Regions from separate parts of the Homo sapiens genome. Here region 1 is linked to region 2. The links come from fine-mapping of genetic effects on gene expression. A gene starts in region 2. The other region holds a variant in brackets. All regions are shown on one strand. Distances are between the middles of the regions.

Region 1 (9,296 bases), 110 kb after region 2:
AGTGTCACAGAGCTGTGAGGTTGGGTCTTTGGGATTAGCTTCATTTTCCAGGGTTTGCCCTTTGCCCTTCAACCAAAGGACAAAGTCATGTTAACAGCTGCTACTAAGTCTATATGCCCATTCGTTCATACCACAAAACAGGCATCTGACTCCTCTGGTCACCATGGAATCAAGGCACTGTCAAGTGGTGGGGGGTCCACAGGCACAGTGGGCTTCACTCTGGAACAGGATTACTGGGTGCAGCGGATGTAATCCTCACTTAATCAACCCACACCCCAGCATCCCCTGAGCTTTCTCTTAATCTCATTCTAGCCCATCTTGACTCTTCGGTTAGAGGGAGTTCTCATTGGAGATTTGTCTCTGGGATTAATGAGTGTATGCCTAGCTACTTTCTCCAGTTTACTTTTAGACCATATTGTTGTTTGTTTTGAATATCATTCCTTAGGCTATGTTGAGAGTAGAGTGGCTTCCCATTAGGAGAACTAATTTAGGGCATGTCTTTTGCTGAATCCCGTCAGCATATTTAACAAATTCCCAATTCTAGATAATTTCCTTTTATTTCTCTAGTACCCTTTGCCAGGGGCTCTACACATCAAAGGTGTTCATGAAGTATTTGTCAAAGGAAAGAACAGTAATGACACCTAACACATAATGAGTGATTAGTATGTTCCAGGCATTGCGTGAGCTATTTACTGTGAGTGATTTAATGTTATCTTCCCAGCAGACCTCTGAGGTAGGTACTAGTATGATCCCCATTTCGTACATGAGGAAACTGACACTAAGGGACATAAAATAAGTTTTTTGAAGTCACAAAGTGAATAAAAGGAAGAACCAGGGTTTAATTGAAGCCCATAGCAATGAAAACATTGTGGAACTTATTCTTCATGAATGGTTTACAATTTAAACAAAATGTCACCTAGAAAATAGATGAAAATATGTTCAACCAGGTCTGGATTTTTCCAATGTTTACTACTGAATTTTCATTCAATAACAAGTTTAACTTCCAAAAAGGTGTTGGTATCTGATTTTCTGCCTGCCTCAGAATGTGATTTGTCTGCCTTTGGGTCATCCAGCCTTGGGTAGAGAAGGAATTTGAACTCAGGAAATTCAACTCCAGAACTGATGTTCTTTTTTTTTTTTCATTTAAGTTCTGGGATACATGTGCAGAACGTGCAGGTTTGTTACATAGGTATACATGTGCCATGGTGGTTTGCTGCACCTATCAATCCATCATCTAGATTTTAAGCTCTGCATGCATTAGATATTTGTCCTAATGCTCTCCCTCCCATTGCCCCCAACCTCCCGACAGGCCCCAGTGTGATGTTTCCCTCCCTGTGTCCATTTGTTCTCATTTTTCATCTCCCACTTATGAGTGAGAACATGTGTTGTTTGGTTTTCTGTTCCTGTGTTAGTTTGCTGAGAATTATGGCTTCCAGCTTCATCCATGTCCCTGCAAAGGACATGAACTCATTCTTTTTCATGGCTGCATGGTATTCAATGGTATATATGCCATATTTTCTTTATCCAGTCTATCATTGGTGGGCATTTGGGTTGGTTCCAAGTCTTTGCTATTGTAAATAATGCTGCAATAAAAGTATGTGTGCATGTGTCTTTATAGTAGAATGGTTTATAGTCCTTTGGGTGTATATCCAGTAATGGGATTGCTGGGTCAAATGGTATTTCTGGTTCTAGATCTTTGAGGAATCATCACATTGTCTTCCACAATGGTTGAACTAATTTACACTCCCAACAACAGTGTAAAAGCATTCCTGTTTCTCCACAGCCTCACCAACATCTGTTGTTTCCTGACTTTTTAATGATCGCCATTCTAACTGGCATGAGATGGTACCCCATTGTGGTTTTGATTTACATTTCCCTAATGACCAGTAATGATGAGCTTTTTTTCATGTTTATTGGCCACATAAATGTCTTCTTTTGAGAAGTGTCTGTTCATATCCTTTGCCCACTTTTTGATGTGTTTTTGTTGTTGTTGTAAATTTGTTTAAGTCCCTTGCAGATTCTGGATATCAGAACTTGTCAGATGGGTAGCTTGCAAAAATTTTCTCCCATTCTGTAGGTTGCAGAACTGGTGTTCTCAACAGTGATGTTAGGGTAAAATGATGGATACTGCTGGGTTTAATAGATTGCCCTAGAAACAGAGACAATGTCTGGCTTCTTACACACACACACACTTCCTGGTAGAAGTTGGAGCCTGTAGCTCCTTGTCTCTCATACAGAGAGACTGTGACTTTGCCTCTTGTTTTTAAGTTGATAGTTAATTGTAACTGCAGTATTCTCAGATTCTTTTGTCTATTCACAGAAACTAATTTGCTGCCAGTGATAGGGATGATCCATGATTTCTGAGACATTTACTTCCATAATTTCACAGTTCTAAGTCTAGAAAAATTATTAGAAGAAAATTATTGGATGGTCTTGGAACCAACCCAAAGAAAAAAACATGTCCTGTGAACAGTAGGATAGATACTGAATGTAGCTTGTCTCACTTTGGAACTAGTGCTTATAATTTCCCTTGGACTGTATATTTTTGTCCAATCACTACTGTACAGGACATGGGTTTGGTTTGCTTTTCCCTCCCATGAGCCACTCAATTGCTTTGCTAAAAGCCCCATCAGTTTTCCTTTGGTTTCCTTTGGTACACCAACATCAACACAGAGTCCACTTGGTTTGGAAGGGGTTGGCCCACACTGTTGGCAGGAGTGGGCACAGAATCCATGCTCATCTAATTGTCCATACCTTCCAACAAGGATTGGTTCAAGTGATGGGAAGGTGGCCCTTGCCAGGGTGATGAAGTGCATACGACAGACTTTTACTGGCTGTACTGGGAAGCATACATTTTCTTTGGTACTGGAGAATTGGTAATGACAGTGCCAAATGTTGTTTGTTATTGAAGCTAAGTGAAGGGGCTCTTGAAGGATCCTTATTCAACTTTTGCCTATGTTTAGAAATTTTGTAGTAAAATTGTAATGGTGTAAGTCTACTATTTATACCTATAGAAGTAAAAGACTTTTGCCAGGTGCAGTGGTTCACGCCTGTAATCCCAACACTTTGGCAGGCCGAGGCGGGTGGATCACGAGGTCAGGAGTTCGAGACCAGCCTGGCCAATATGGTGAAACCACATCTCTACTAAAAAAAATGCAGAATTAGCTGGGTGCAGTGGCTCATGCCTGTAGTCCCAGCTACTCAGGAGGCTGAGGCAGGAGAATCGCTGGAGGTTGCAGTGAGCTGAGATCGCGCCACTGCACTGTAGCCTGGACAATAGAGTGAGACTCCGTCCAAAAAAAAGAAAAAAGAAAAGAAAAAAAGAGAAGTAGAAGACTTGTTTTTTTTAAGTTTTGAAACAATTTCTTAGGGAGAGTAGGATTGAAAGAGTAGAGAAACAGGGGAGATAAAGACAGAGTAGGGTTTGGGCAGATTCCTGTTGTTTTTCTTATAAGCTCTTTGTTAGTAATTTAATATTGTATTTCTACCACATATGTTTTCTACCCTATGCAAGCATGACACCTTTTAAACAAGATAGATATAAACTGTATTAAAATTTACAACACAGCTTGCATGCCAACATAGTCTTCCATGATTTGGTCTCTGCGAGTGTTTCCAGATTTGCCTCCCACCTCTATCCCTTGCTTTCTTTATTCCAGCTGTGATGCACACATTTCAGCGTGAATGCGGCCCTCCTTCTCATTTCTACAGATTGTTCTGTGCTCCTGGGTCATTCCTTTCTTCCACCTGTCCTTCCCTCCACTTCACAATAGAATAGAGAAGTTTCTGATGTTTGGGCTTCCTTTTGGGTAGAACAACAACAAAAGTCAACTAGAAAAATGTCCTTTTTTAGAGT[T/C]ATATTTTCAGAGTGAGGACTCATTTATCATTTATATTTATCATAAGAAATTAAAACATTTTCACTTTTTGTTTTTTCCTGTTAAATCTTTAAGTATCTTTAACCAGGACTTAATTAAACTTGAATGGTCTGCAATCTTTTTCAAATGTGAATAATTTCAATGTATATTTTCTCCATTTGCTAAATTTGGTAAAATAGTGTTTAGTGTTGTATTTTTAATAAAACAAAACCTGCCCTGTGGAGAAGGGACACACTTTGTGGACGTGCCATTTGGGTCACACACAAAGGTGGGCCACTGGGGTGCCACCACTGAGCCAGCCAGGATAGCAAGAGCGACATTCTCTAATTCACACAGAGGCATTTTATGAGCTAGTGGTGGCCTTGGAGAAGGGACGGCACTTCTCTATATTACTTTGGATTGGGGTATCAGTATTTTTAAGGTTTTCTTTTTTTCTTCAGCTCTTAACCCAGAGGTCATTTCCTCGAGCCGTGTCTCTAAGCCTCATGTTCCGATAAAACCTGTAACTTCCTTTATATATCAGTCATCACATTTGTAATTATTTGTTTAAAATCTCTCTTTCCCACTACATGGAAGCTTCATAGGGGCAGGGACTAGACCTACCCTATTCACAGCTGTATCTACAGCCCCAAGGGCAGGGCCTGTCACATATCAGTTTTGGTGTAGGGGTCTATTGTATTAACACATTACTAACAAGAGTGTATGATAATGGGAGAAGACTAGATGAGGATTTCCAACTATTGTATATGTTTGCTGTCTTTAGGCGGATCACCTGAGGTCTGGCGTTCCACACCAGCCTGGCCAACATGACAAAACCCTGTCTCTACTGAAAATACAAAAATTAACTGGGTGTGGTGGCACATGCCTGTAATTCCAGCTACTTGGGAATCTGAGGCAGGAGAATCACTTGAATCCGGGAGGCGGAGGTTGCCCTGAGCTGAGATCGTGCCACTGCACTCCAACCTGGGCAAAAGAGTGAGACTCTGTCTCAAAAAAAAAAAAAAGAAAAGAAAAAGAAAGAAGAAGAAGAAGAAAAGACCTCTGTTATTTATCCCTATTCAAGAAAATGGTTTCACTATTCCAGAAAGAAGCTTTAGTGTGATTAGAACCATTCTCCTATTTTTAGCTTCTGAAAACAGGCTGCACTGTGAGAGTGAATTTTCCATTAATTCTTATTTCTCCTTTTCCTTGGGACTTGGTCAGTGAATAGTATAAGCTATTTTCAGGAGTTTCTGTATTTTGGTGAAAAAAGTATTTATCTGACATTTCCTGGGCCCTATTTCTACTACATTTCGATGTCAATTCCTCTCCTCTGCTAACATTTCCAGCCAAAGTTAACTACAGTGTAGATACTTTCATTTTGAATTAACATTTTTCCTGTTCTGCCATGTTATTAGGTTCTGGAACAGGGATATATCCCACAATAACAGTAATGACAAATTAAGACCCCCCTAAAAAAAATTCAAATTATTTTATATGGCCTCCCAGCTCCAAAACAAGGCAGCTGAGATGCCTATACATGGCACCTTCATACCGGTACATCTATCTGTTAGTCTCCATTTCTGTAGAAGAAAACAAAAAGATGCTATTAGCCTACTTCAAATTGTTGTTCCACTTTTGAATCTAACCTAGTTTCCTATGATAAGTTATTTCTTCAGGCCCCTAGGCTGTCTTCACCAGAAACTTTGAAATAGAAACCAGACCTTTCTGAGTATTGCTCAGGTACATCTCTGATACACTGATTCATCTAAGATCAAAAGTGCCCCCCGCTAATATGGCCTCAGCAGCACGTAGCTAGCACATGAACAGCAGGTCAGCCAAGACGTTAAATGTGGTCAAGGTTTCCAAAGAAGGAGAGCTACTTTTCAGTCAATGCTATCTCCTTATAGGCATGGCATGATTGCGTTTCTCAGGATATTATTTTCATGAACTTGTTCCTGCTGCAAGGTCTTTAGTACCATGCCTGGCTTCCATTTTGAAAAGCCTTCTTGTGCAAGATTGGTGCACTTCCCAGTTCTGGTAGGAGGACAGTTTGGTCCCGTACTCAGCTTGCAGAAGTTCCTACATTTTCTACACACAACTCTTTGTACTGATTCACTTTTCATTTGGGAAAGCCATGAGAAACTTTTTTCATAAAAAAATATAACCATCATCTCTATAAACTCTTCAAGATGATAAAGGGAGAGAGCATCATTTTGCAATGTTAAGCATAGGTTGGGAAAAATGGTGTTGAGAAAAAATTAAGATAGAAATTGTAAACTATCTCTCAAGCTGGAGATCTAGAGAACAAAGAAGTTGAGTAACAGATGGAGAGAAAAAGTCCTCACCCTGAGGAGTAACCAAGAGCTTACCTGAGGAACAGCTTCCCAGACACCACTTCAAATATCATATTACCTCATATCAAGAGGATAAACCCAAAGGCAGCCCAATGGAGCAGTTTGATAAGCCATTTCTGTTTTAAAATTCAATAAGAAAGATCCCTTTGTTTCTTTTTCCTAGGCTACCAACAAATTTATAAAATGTTCTTGAATGTATTGTCCTTTTCATCAAGAATAATCTGAAAAAAACCCAATCATCTTTATTGTGCAGTACAGATGGAAGGGGAGAATTAACAACAACAAAGCCACTGCTTTTTATTCCTAGGCCCTTAATAGCCCTAAAACAACTAACTGTCTGTATTAGTTCATTTTCACATTGCTATGAAGAAATACCCAAGACTGAGTAATTTATAAAGGAAAGACGTTTAGTTGGCTCACAATTTTGCAAGCCTGGGGCAGTCTCAGGAAACTTACAATCATCGCGAAAAGGAAAGCAAGCATGTCTTACATGGTGGCAGGTGAGTGATGAGAGAGCAAGAGAGAAACTACCAAACACTTAATAAAACATCGGATCTCTTCAGAACTCACTCACTATCACGAGAACAGCATGGGGGGGAACTGGCCCCCATGATCCAATCACCTCCAACCAGCTCTCTCCCTCAACACCTAGGTATTACAATTCAAGGTGATATTTGGGTGGGGACACAAAGCCTGGCCATATCACTCTCTGTTGCTAAAAAAGAAAAACTTAGGTGGAGATTTGGAAATTAAAGTCCAGTGTAATTGGCCCCACTGTGGAGAACCAAGCCATGCAAGGACACTCACAATGATGAAAAAAAAATTCTCAGCACTTAGGTAAGGCACTCAGTTGGAACAATGCTTTCCTGGGTCTGCAGACTGGAACCTAAGCAGCTGTGTGCTTCACTTAGATAAATACATATTCAATGCATGAGACTGATTCACCCTCACAAATGATACTTCTTTTAATAGGATCATGCAGTCTACTCCCAGCCACATAGTTTTTGTCTTAAATAACAAATCATTTGAACAGGTAGTTAAAATGAGGACCATTCAGGTTTGAATTAGTAAAGTTACATATGGGAAGATTCCGTGAATTATTGTAGCAGACGGGAGTTATAACAAAAAATATATTGTGCATTTATATAATTTCATAATCCCATTCAAGCAATGACCCTAAAAATCTATTTTCCAGACCACATTTACTCCCAAGGATATCAGTGTAAGTTAGGTGAATCATCAATAAACCGCTTCTTTTCAGAAACTGTTTTAAGTGCTTTTATATTTATTTATGCTCACAACATTCCTACAGAGTAAGTACAATTACACTCTTCATTTTGCTGAGAACTAGTAAGCTGTGAAGCCACATTTCCAACCCTAGAAGTTGGAGCCCACACTCTCAGCCAGCATACTGTCCTATGGAGTTACTGGATCTGCCATCGCCTGTAACTCTGCCTGCATTAGACTATGTGTCTGAATACTGAATCACAGAGCAAGCAGAGTCCAACTGCCAAAACCAATCAGGTTATTCCTAGTTACACAAAAAGCAGTTACTTTACAGTAAAGGTCATTCATCCAAGGAACACTTCGCTCAGGATATACAATTGATTTTTTTTCCAATACCAAGACCGTGTCCAACCTAGACTGGAGGGTTTTAAAGATTCTGCGATTCAAAATAAGAGCTTGATGGAGTCTTAGAGGAAGCAGGTCTTACACTCAAGGTTTTTATCCTTTTTAAGGATGCCCCAACTCCTCTCATTATGTCTAAAAGCATTGGATAAGGGACCACATACGTTCCCATAGGTTATTAGCTCCAATAGCTGTAAAATCTAAATTCCCAACAAACTGGAGACATTTCAAGAGGCAGAAATCACCCTAGAATACTTTAGGGAAATAATAATGGTCACTTTTAAGTTTTAAAGAAGTGGGTTTTTATTGTTGTTGTTGGTGGTGGTGGTTTTGTTTGTTTTTGAGATGGAGTCTCGCTCTGTTGCCCAGGCTGGAGTGCAGTCATGAAATCTCAACTCACTGCAATCTCTGCCTTCTGCATTCAAGTGATTCTCCTGCCTGAGCCTCCCAAATAGCTGGGTCAACAAGTGTTTGCCACCATGCCCAGCTAATTTTTGTATTTTTAGTAGATACAGGGTTTGGCCATGTTGGTCTCGAACTCCTGCCTCACATGATCCACCTAGCCTCGGCCTCCCAGAGTGCTGGGATTGCCGGCATGAGCAACAGCGACCAGCCTTAAAGATGACCCTACCTTTATTTAAAATGACCCTGCTTGTATTTCCTCCCCTGAATGCCTTAAAGTCCCTGACTTATTTGAAAACTTAGTATTTCGAAACAGTTTCAGAAAAAATTAAAGCCTTAGTGGTTGGTCACACTAAATGGGACCGTCAAAGCTCCTACTGCTCACAAATATTGTTAAAATGGAATAACACGCACTGCTAAAGGGAATTAAAGTCACTCCTATCTTGAATGAACCCTCGACATTTTAAGTTCTGTGTCCTCTGCATAGAATCTTTGTTCTTTGTCTCTCCCTTGTGGCCATTTAGAAAACCTTTCAGCTCCTGATCACCAGTTGAAACAGTGAAATTGTTCCCATTGTGGCAAACACAGTCTCTTGCCGTGGTTTTAATTTAAAAGAGATATTTATGTTACCCTTCCCATGAAGCAATTGACTGGTCAATATGCTCTCTACTTGTGTTATCCATAAAAATTTCCCAAACCAATTTACTTTTAGTGTCAGAAGATGCAACCCAACAATATTCTTTTTTTAATGAAATACACTGTGCTCATAAAAAATGTATCTAAAAGCATATGTACAATTTAAATAATAATTAGAAAGGGAACAATCAGATCAGCAACAGATTAAGAAATAGAATGTTGCCAATAATTGAAGTCCTCCATATGTTCCTCCAAGTTCATTGTCCCTCTCCTACCACCAGATGGAACACTAATCTGACTTCTGTGATCATTCCTTTTGCTCCTTTAGTTTTACTACCTATGTGCACAAACTTAAACTACATAGTTTAGTTTTAACTTGTTTTAAACTGTATAAGAATACAAGAAAGTTATATTATAT
Region 2 (9,296 bases):
AAAAATGTATGCCCAAGTATATTTTACAGATATGCCAAAAGCAGAATATGAAAACTTTTATAACTCTGAATTAGGGCTGGCCGCTTGTCAAGAGAAGCAACAAACTCCCCCATTGCTTCAAAGTTCCACTGTTTTCAATGAAGACGCAGGCAGGAACTTGCCCTTGGAGATAGGCCATGCTACAATTGGAATAAAAGTTATTATAAATGTACTAAAGAATGAAACTTAATGGGTGAGTGTTTCATAGATACTCTCAAGTTAGTAACCTTGCTTTTTACTTCCACTACAACACAATTTTAGTAATTACACTTGAGAGATTTAAAGTGAGGAGATATAATTATGACAGTACTTGTGTTATTCTGGGTCCTCCAAGAAGCAAAAGCCAAGACAGGATCAGATATGCGAGAGATTTATTAAAGGAAATGCCTGTGAGAGAAAATGTCGAGGGAGCCAGAGAAGGCCGGGAGAGCCACCATTAGACTGCAATGTAGGTTTAACCCTTGGGAAGGAGACAGCAAAGGAAAGACAGGCTTCCACTGAAGTACAGGTCTCAGAGAGTTTCTTTCAGGACCATGAGGAGTCCTTGAGCCAAACTCACCTATCGGGAGAGTCCCATGTCTTCCAGGAATGGGCCTGCCTGAGGATCCTCACTACATTTGATCACCAGCCTGGAGAAGCCCCTGGCAGCATGGCCTTGGCGCCAAGGATTCCAGAGCACACCAGCTGGGGCCATCTGGCAATTTCATACCCACCCCCTGCAGTTGGACATCTGAGAGGAACATTTTCATCACCACCATAGTACTCATTCTTAAGGCAGCTGTAGACACCTGTTCTGGATCATCTTAAATAGTGACTTAGTGAACTTCCCCAGTGACTCATACCAGTAAATGTCCATAGGTGGATTCATCCATCTCTGTTCCTAAATTAGAGTGTGGCTAATTCTTCCCAGATTCTTAAGGTCCTTAAAAGAAAGAATATATGGTACCACATTAAGTTAAGCTCATGACTGAAAATAATTTAAGAAGGAGGCCAGTGACTATTAATAGTAGCCCACAATTAGAAGGCATATGTATGAGTAACCCCTGCATCTGGCTTAGTGATAAACTGCAATTACTGCAGCAATTGCTCTCTATTTGACAAAAAATGGACTCATGTACCACTGGTAAAGATAATATTTCTGATTTGTGTTTGCCTCTTGTATATGCTGGACAATGAAGTATAATATTGTTTATGTATATTTATTACGTATAACCCAGAAAGAGTCTGTCATGGAAGCACAAGAAGTATGAGTTAGCCTGCCTGATTTAAGCTAATACAGATCTATCCTTGGAAATGGAGATGAATTCATTGTCCCCTGAATCTCATAAAGGAGAGGTGGATTATCTGATTTAAAAAAAAAATGGATTTGGTTAGAAAGGACAATAGGGGTAGTGTAGGGAATAGATGTTGAGGAGGCAACCACAGTGTTTACTAAATGGTGCTTTTAAAAAATCTTCCTCCACACTGTAGAATGGAATCCAAACTCCCTAGTATGGCAGCCAAAGTCCCTCTAAACCGAGCCCAAACTTCTCTTTAGAGCTAGCACTATGCAAGTTCTGCTAACAAGTTTCAGTCACTATGAACATTTTGTCTTTCTCAAATTAAGCCTTTCACATTCATATCTCTGTGCTTTGGAATCTTATACAGCCTCACATTGTAATACCTTCCCCTTTATCTCCCCGCAAATATACATTTTTCTAAGCTGAGTTTCTGTGTCACCTTCTGTGCACATTCTTCTCTAATCCTTTGATCAGAAATAATTGCTGCTTCTTTTATGTGCCCTTGCACCTGATTCGTAGCCAATTTTGGTATAGTTGTTTTCTTGTCTTTTTTCCTCTCTAGATTTACTGACCATAATAGCATTTCTATCTCCCAGAGTGCCTCACAGAATAAGTGTCCAGTAAGGATATGTTGACTTTCACTGAATGGCGTCTGTTTTCTCCCAAGTAAAAGGAAAGATCTGGGGCCTGCACCTTTGCATAAGCAGTAACCATTTCGAAGCTTATCCAACCCACCTTATTTTCGTTGTTGTTGTTGTTGTTCCGTTTTCTTTTATTTTAGGTTTCTAGCTGCCTGAACTCACGGTTTTTAGTTTCTGTCTCTAGTGAAAGGGGAAAAGAGGGATGAGGAAGGGGTTTTACTCGCCTAACCAAAAACAGAAACTAAGAACCCATGACTGTATTCTCTCTCGGACACCCTTTAGTCAGAACGTAAATGCTGGTTACCATCTTTAATCTTTTTTTTCTTCTTTTTTTTTTTTTTTTTTTTTTTTAGGAACCGTTATGCCGTTCCTATGTTGTTAGGTTCCATTCCTCAGGCAGCTCCTGCTCCCAAATGGCAGGTACTTTCTGCTCTCTGACCCTGGAAAAATCACCTTTGTTTAAAGCCCCTTTCTTCTATTAGAGCAACACCAAAATACTCTCAGGAGTTAATTTAGAACAATAGTAGTACTTTACCATGAGGAGTGAGGTTGATGTAGGTGGAGACTGGTTAAAACCTAAGAGTACAAACACACAAAAGATACCGAGCCAGCTTTTTGTTGTTGTTGTTGAGACGGAGTCTCGCTCTGTCGCCCAGGCTGGAGGGCAGTGGCATGATCTCTGCTCACTGCAACATCCGCCTCCCGGGTTCAAGCAATTCTCCTGCCTCAGCCTCCCGAGTAGCTGGGATTACAGGCCTGTGCCACCACGCCCGGCTAATTTTTGTATTTTTAGGAGAGACGGGGTTTCTCCATGTTGGCCAGGCTGGTCTTGAACTCCTGACCTCAGGTGATCCACCCACCTCGGCCTCCCAAAGTGCTGGGATTACAGGAGTGAGCCCCCGCACCCGGGCCTGAATCAGCTTTTAACGTGGAACTTTACTGACCCACTTTCTTTGATGTCCATCTCCCACTTCAGCTCCCAAAGGTCAGTTGTTCCCTGATATGAAGCCTAAGAACTCAACGTACTTCACCGCACGTTGGATTTCTAGCCGGAATTATTCCAAATTCTGGCAAGTCTTATCCACAATTTCTTTTCTGTGTAAGTTTCTCCTTGCTCTTTATTTCTGAAACCTGAATGTATTTGGTCCTCTGCCAATCAGATTTCCACTAGTCCTCCGAAGAGTCAGTTATTAACTCACTAATTCGACAGATATTTTTGGACGTTCACTATATCCTTATTTATTTAGCATATATTTAGTTATTTATTAAGAAACTAAAGCCTATTCTATGTCAGAAATGAAAATAGGCAATGAGGACTCAATGGTGGGCAAAATGCAGACAGACTACTTTTTTCCCCTCATTCTAGCACAGTCATCACTTTCCTAGGTAAGACGTTCCTAAACTCCAGACTACACCAAATCCTCCTCCTGACCACACCCTTCCACCTTGATTTTCACCTTCTGACCTCTCTTGCGTAGAAATTCGAGCACCAGCCACTCTATAGCTTTAGCTTAATTTCTCCAGCCATGCACGGACGAATCTGTGTTAGTGATGCCACAGGCACGTTTCCCTCCCAGCAAGAATATAACTTGCTGGGCAGCATTTCTGTGGATACTTTGAGAGAAAAATGCCCTAGTTGAGCACCCCGCACCATGGCCATAAGCATCCACCGGGCTCGAAGTGCATGGCCCGCAGCTGACCACTAGGGGGCAGCCCTCCACGCAGAGGCTCGAGCGACGGAGGCGACGCGGCGGCTACCGGCTCTGCTGAGCCCACCCCAAGATCGGAGGGAAGGGAGCCTGATTCCACGCGGGGCCTCCCCCGTGGCATACGTTGTTGTTAGGGAACTATTCGCCCCAAATATGGTTTATTGGAGACTTAGGGTTTGCTTTTCTTATCAAGTGCGACAGCAAACTGGCTGGGTCCCCTCTCGCATCCAAGAACCCGCAGAGACCCTGAGGGAGCCGGTTTGGGGCCCCATGCAGGCCAAAGCATCCCTCCGGGAAGGCGGGGTCGCTCACCTGGTAGGCGCCCCGAGAGCCCGCAGCACGGCCCGAGGTGGGGTCCACCGATGGAACGGGAGACCACGGGCGTGGCTCAGGGAGCGGTAGCCGCGCCCCGGGCCCGCCTCAGGGTCGGCTCCGCCTCACCCCAGCCTGTGCCCCGCCTCCGGGACAGCCCAGTTTCCGAGACCTCCTAGCCTCCAAGACAGCCCCGCCGCCAGAACAGCCTCTCCTCCAGGACCGGCCAGCCTACGAGAGAGCCCCGCCTACGGTACAACCCGCCTCCGGGACCGCAGGACTCCACCTCCGAGACAGCTCAGTCCCCAGGACAGTCCCGCCTCCGAGACGGCCCCGCCTCCAGGACGGCCCCTACCTCCGAGACCGCCCCGCCTCCGGGACCGCCCCGCCCCGCCTCGCCTCCGACCCGTCCCCCGCGCGCCACTGCAGAGCCTGTCCGTCAGTCCCTAGGTATCCGCACTGCTCAGGGGTGAGTTTTCCAATCCCAGCGGGTCCTGGGGTGGGGGCGGTAGCTGAGCACCTAGGGCACTGGGGGTCGCCGCAAAGTGCTGGAGGCCCCAGACCATACCCGGCGTCAGGGGGTGTCCCTCCCTTCTTAGGTCTAGGTCTTTGGTTTCATTTCGTTTTGTTAGTCTGGTGCTATTTGCAGTTTGTCTCAAAACACGTTTCTCCCTCCTATTTGAACTTGTAAATTACGAATTTGACAAAGATGTGCATGGTGTGTGCGTGCACGAGGGCACATTTCGTTGCGGAATGCTGGGTCAGCTTTCCGGGACATATTACTCATCTGAGGTTTTTTGTCTGTTTTTGTTTATCCTGTCAAACTGGTACTGCCCCAGAAGTGAAAGACGTCGCTTGTCTTCTGGGAGGTAGCTAGCACGATCTTGAGCTCAGGCTTCCGGATCTCTCTCGGCTGCTTTTTTCCACTGGTAACTTCTGAGGCTGAGATCAGGTACCCGCATTCTCAATGCTCTGCCGAGTATTGGCTCTCTTTTGTGAATTTCTTTCCCGCGAGCAGTATTAAGAAAAAGGTGGCGGATAGGAAGGGAAGAGGGGAAGAGATGGAATTCTACAGGAAATGCAGGGCATGCTCAGAATGCCAACCTTTCCGAGCTTGGAGAGATTTAGTGGAAGAAAGTAGCAGGAAAAACGTCCAGTAATCACTGGCATGCCAGACCCTGGAGAAGCCAGGCTGAGGCGCTCTGCAAGTTTCACCTTAGAGAGAGTGGACGAAATGTAACGGTTCTTGTTAGAGTTCTTGTAGAGGACGATTGTGGATGAGAATACATCCTGGGGACTAAAACCATATTGGTTTAGTCTGGAATGATTGCCAACTAAAGGGACTGATGTTTGAGAGAGATGGTGAGAGATTAACCAAATGAGGTGGTTGACTGCATATAGAAGCAGGAGGGAGAGAGGAAGGAGGCACTTGTGGCTCAAGGGCTTGGTGTGTGTTTTAGTTTAGATTCTGCCCTAAAGCAAAGCCTTATGCAAGGGCTTACCTGCAGGTAATTTTTTGGGGGTAAGTGAGACCAAAAAGCCCAAATGAGGAAGTGGAGAGAATGAGACAAGGAAAAAAGGGAAAGCCAGGAGGAGCATGTGGCTGAGGGTCTTCCACATGGCGCTCCTTTCCTCCGGGTGCCTTCCGAGGACCTCTGATGGGCACCTCGGGAAAGCCACGGGGCACTCTTCTGTGAATCCCCGCTCTACTGGGCGAAGCTCACCCTAGTGTCAACTCACCGCTACTTCAGGGCTGCCTTGTGCACCTGCAGAGGTGAGAAGCCATCAGAGCACAGAGGAAAGTCCCTTACAGTGGGCTCGTCAGAGACGCGCAAAGGGAGGCGGCACAGGCAGCCAGGGGACTACTGCACTACTGCAATCTGCAACGCTGCCCTCGGCAACCCGGGAAACTTAAAAGGACAGCAAAGGGACAGACACTCTCGTTTATTCCGTGCTCACTGTATGTGTACCAACCCCAGACAAGGCATTTTTAGACATATTCTTTGCTTTATTTTATTTTACTTTACTTTATTTTATTTTATTTTATTTTATTTTATTTTTTGAGGCAGAGTCTTGTTCTCTCGCACAGGCTAGAGTCCACTGGTGCGATATCGGCTCACTGCAACCTCCGCCCCCCACCGTCAGGGTTCAAGAAATTCTCATGACTCAGCCTCCCCAAGTGGCTGGGATTACAGGTGCACGCCACCATGCCCAGCTATTTTTTGTAGATTTAGTAGAGACAGGTTTCGCCATGTTGGCCAGGCTGGTCTCAAACTCCTGAGCTCAGGTGATCCACCGGCCTCGGCCTCCTAAAGTGCTGGGATTACAGACATAAGCCACTGCGCCTGGCCTATCCATATTCCTTTAATCTTCAAAAACAATCTTCCCATGGCTGTATTATTCTCTTTTTGTAGATGGGGAAACTGAGACTGAAGTCATTTATCCAAGAGGGGCTGCTTAAAGGGACAAATAGTCTCAGTGTTAGGCACAGCCAATTTTAAAAGACCTCCGGAAACTGCATAATGCTACCAAATAGAGGAGGGTCCTCTCCATTAGGGCAGATTTGATAAATTAGGGGGCACTTTCCAACTTAGCAAAGCTGTCAGAAGAAAGGCATGTTTTGACAGGTCTATGACCTTTCTGTTCAAAAAAATCAAGCACTGTGTCCACTCAGGCACACGAACTTAACTATCACCTTGATTTACTGGCCCTGCAGGATCTAGCCCGTCCCTCCCTCCTCCTGGGGTCCTGCTCCTCCCTGCTCCTGGCTCTCAGCCACCCCAAAGTGGTCTCGTTGCTGGAATGCCCTTTGCTCACTGCATTTCAGGTTTCAGCTTCAATGCCACTTTGTCAGAGTCCTTTCCTATCACCCAATCTAAAGTAGTCTTCCAGTTCCTCCATGTCACATCATTGTGTTTTATTTTCATCATAGTGATTGTTGCATTTTATTTATCTGTTTATCTACCTATTTATTCATTATCTTTCTCCTTCTAAAATATTCAAATCACGAAAAGGGAAACCTTATCTGTTTTGTTTCTTGCTGTACTCCCAGTGCTAGAACAGTGCTTGGCCCACAATGGGGAATCCAGTAAAATTTGGAGGTGAATGCATTTAGTTGTTTGCTTTTTTCACCTGTTCCTTCATCTGTTCTGACCAGCAGTGCTTATCAGTATCTCTTAAATACATGAAAGTCTTTGCTTCCCCCTGCAGCAGCTGATAGAACCATGGCGACCATTGCTGCTGCTGCGTTTGAGGCCCTCATGGATGGAGTGACATGCTGGGATGTCCCCAGAGGCCCCATCCCCAGTGAACTCCTTCTTATTGGAGAAGCCGCCTTCCCCGTGATGGTGAATGACAAGGGCCAGGTGCTCATTGCTGCCTCCTCCTACGGCCGAGGCCGCCTCGTGGTTGTGTCCCATGAGGGCTACCTGTCGCATGCTGGCTTGGCTTCATTTCTCCTCAATGCAGTGAGCTGGCTCTGTCCCTGTCCTGGGGCTCCCGTGGGAGTGCGTCCATCCCTGGCACCTCTAGTAAACATCCTACAGGATGCTGGGCTTGAGGCACAGGTCAAGCCAGAACCAGGAGAGCCCCTAGGGGTTTACTGTATCAATGCCTACAATGACACCTTGACTGCAACGCTGATCCAGTTTGTGAAACATGGAGGGGGCTTGTTAATCGGGGGCCAGGCCTGGTACTGGGCCAGCCAGCACGGCCCTGACAAGGTGCTCTCCAGGTTCCCTGGGAACAAGGTGACAAGTGTAGCCGGAGTGTACTTCACTGACACCTATGGGGACAGAGACCGGTTCAAGGTCTCTAAGAAGGTGCCCAAGATCCCACTCCATGTCAGGTGAGTGTTTGTTCCCCTCTTAGGGAGTCTGACTCAGGATAAACAATAGAGTTGGTTCCCCTCTTCAACAAGCTTCCATTGCAATACAGGTGATTTTCCACTCAGTTTGGAACCACCACAAATCAAAAGCAGGATGATTAAAATGCACCAAGACACAAGAGAGGCTGGGCCCTCACTGCCACTCCCTCCTGTGGCCAAAGCTGAATAGAAAAGCTTGTCTTACCACTTTATCTCCATGTCTAGTAAATAGAACCTAGAGAGTGCTCATCAATACCTCTTAAATGCATGAAAGAATATTTGTTTGTTTGTGTGAGCACCGATTGTTGATCATGCTGCATTCTGGACAATGGGGGTCTAGCAGAGATCGAGGCAGGCAAGTCATGCCATCATGAGGTTTGTATTCCAGGGGAGAGATAGGTATTAAGGAAACTAATATATATGTGCTCTATCAGGTATTGCTAAGATCCATGAAAGATGATAATATAAGTGGATAGCATGACAACAGGAAGGCTGATGGAGGCTATTTTATTTAAGATGTTCAGGGAAGTCCTATCAGTCAGACCAAGTTGGATTGGTCAGGATTTGTTGGCGTTGCTAGCAGAAGGGATTTAGTATGGGGAATTGACTATACCCATGATAGAGGAGCTGAAAATACACACAGGGGACAGCAAGTAACCCAGAGATCAGCAACAGCAGAACCAGCAGAGGGAGATGGTGGTATTACTGAAGTCCAGGTGCTGCGGCCACCTGGTAGAAGCTGGAGCCATGCTATGCCTTCCCAGCAGGAGCTGGAACCACAGATGAAAGGTCTGTCTGCTAGAAGCTGGAGTCTCAGAGAAGACACTGTGGTTACCAGAAATACAGCCTGAAGAGAGAAGCAAGCACTTAAACTCCTTCCTTCTTCCTTCCTGATTTCAGTCTTCTACCTCTCTCTCCCATGGGCTGAACCCACCAGGATCCAGGGAACAGGAGAACCAAAGAAATGCAGTTTTCTGCAACACGGAGGATGACCAAGATGAAAGGGGAATAGAGATGAGTGCAAACAAGCTCATGGCCGGCTTGGAAGGCTGGTCTGGTAGGTAGCACTTGAAAGGAGACCTCAAGGAAGTGAGGGAATGAGCCATGTGGGCATCTGTGAGAGGAAGATTCCAGGCAGAGTGAGGAGTGAGGGTGAGAAAACCTGGAAGGGAAGCCTGCTTAGTATGTTCCAAGGGAAAGGGAGTGGCCCTTCTATAAGGTCGGAAGGCTCTGCAAAGCTCCAGGGGAGAATAGCTGAAGGCAGCTGTTCTGTGACCCTGAGGCAGAGGGCAAGGAGTAGGTACAAGGGAGTGTAGGAGAATTTGTCTTGATCAAGCCTGTTTGTTTGAAGTTGTCCAGGAGCTGACATTTGAACATCCGCACACATGATGTTCTCTGAATGAGGAACAATAAATGTTAGTCATTTACAGATTGTGTAGGCTCCAGGCTT

The links. PIP is the estimated chance that this variant, and not a neighbour inherited with it, causes the effect.
Region 1: its variant is fine-mapped to the expression of TCAF2 in whole blood (TOPMed, PIP above 0.99).

Annotation. Positions count from the first base shown.
Region 1 is chr7:143,728,472-143,737,767 of GRCh38, forward strand. TCAF2 (TRPM8 channel associated factor 2) reads left to right here. Exons shown (of 8, transcript NM_001363538.2): 8 at 1-1,939. Among named protein-coding and RNA genes, the nearest start is that of CTAGE6, 25 kb to the right of the region's middle. The variant T/C (reference allele first, on the strand shown) is at 3,857.
Region 2 is chr7:143,616,571-143,625,866 of GRCh38, forward strand. It overlaps TCAF2 (TRPM8 channel associated factor 2), which reads left to right and starts at 4,404. Exons shown (of 8, transcript NM_001363538.2): 1 at 4,404-4,450. It overlaps LOC101928466 (a long non-coding RNA gene), which reads right to left and starts at 2,139. Exons shown (of 4, transcript XR_007060573.1): 1 at 599-2,139. RefSeq lists a silencer at 4,309-4,468.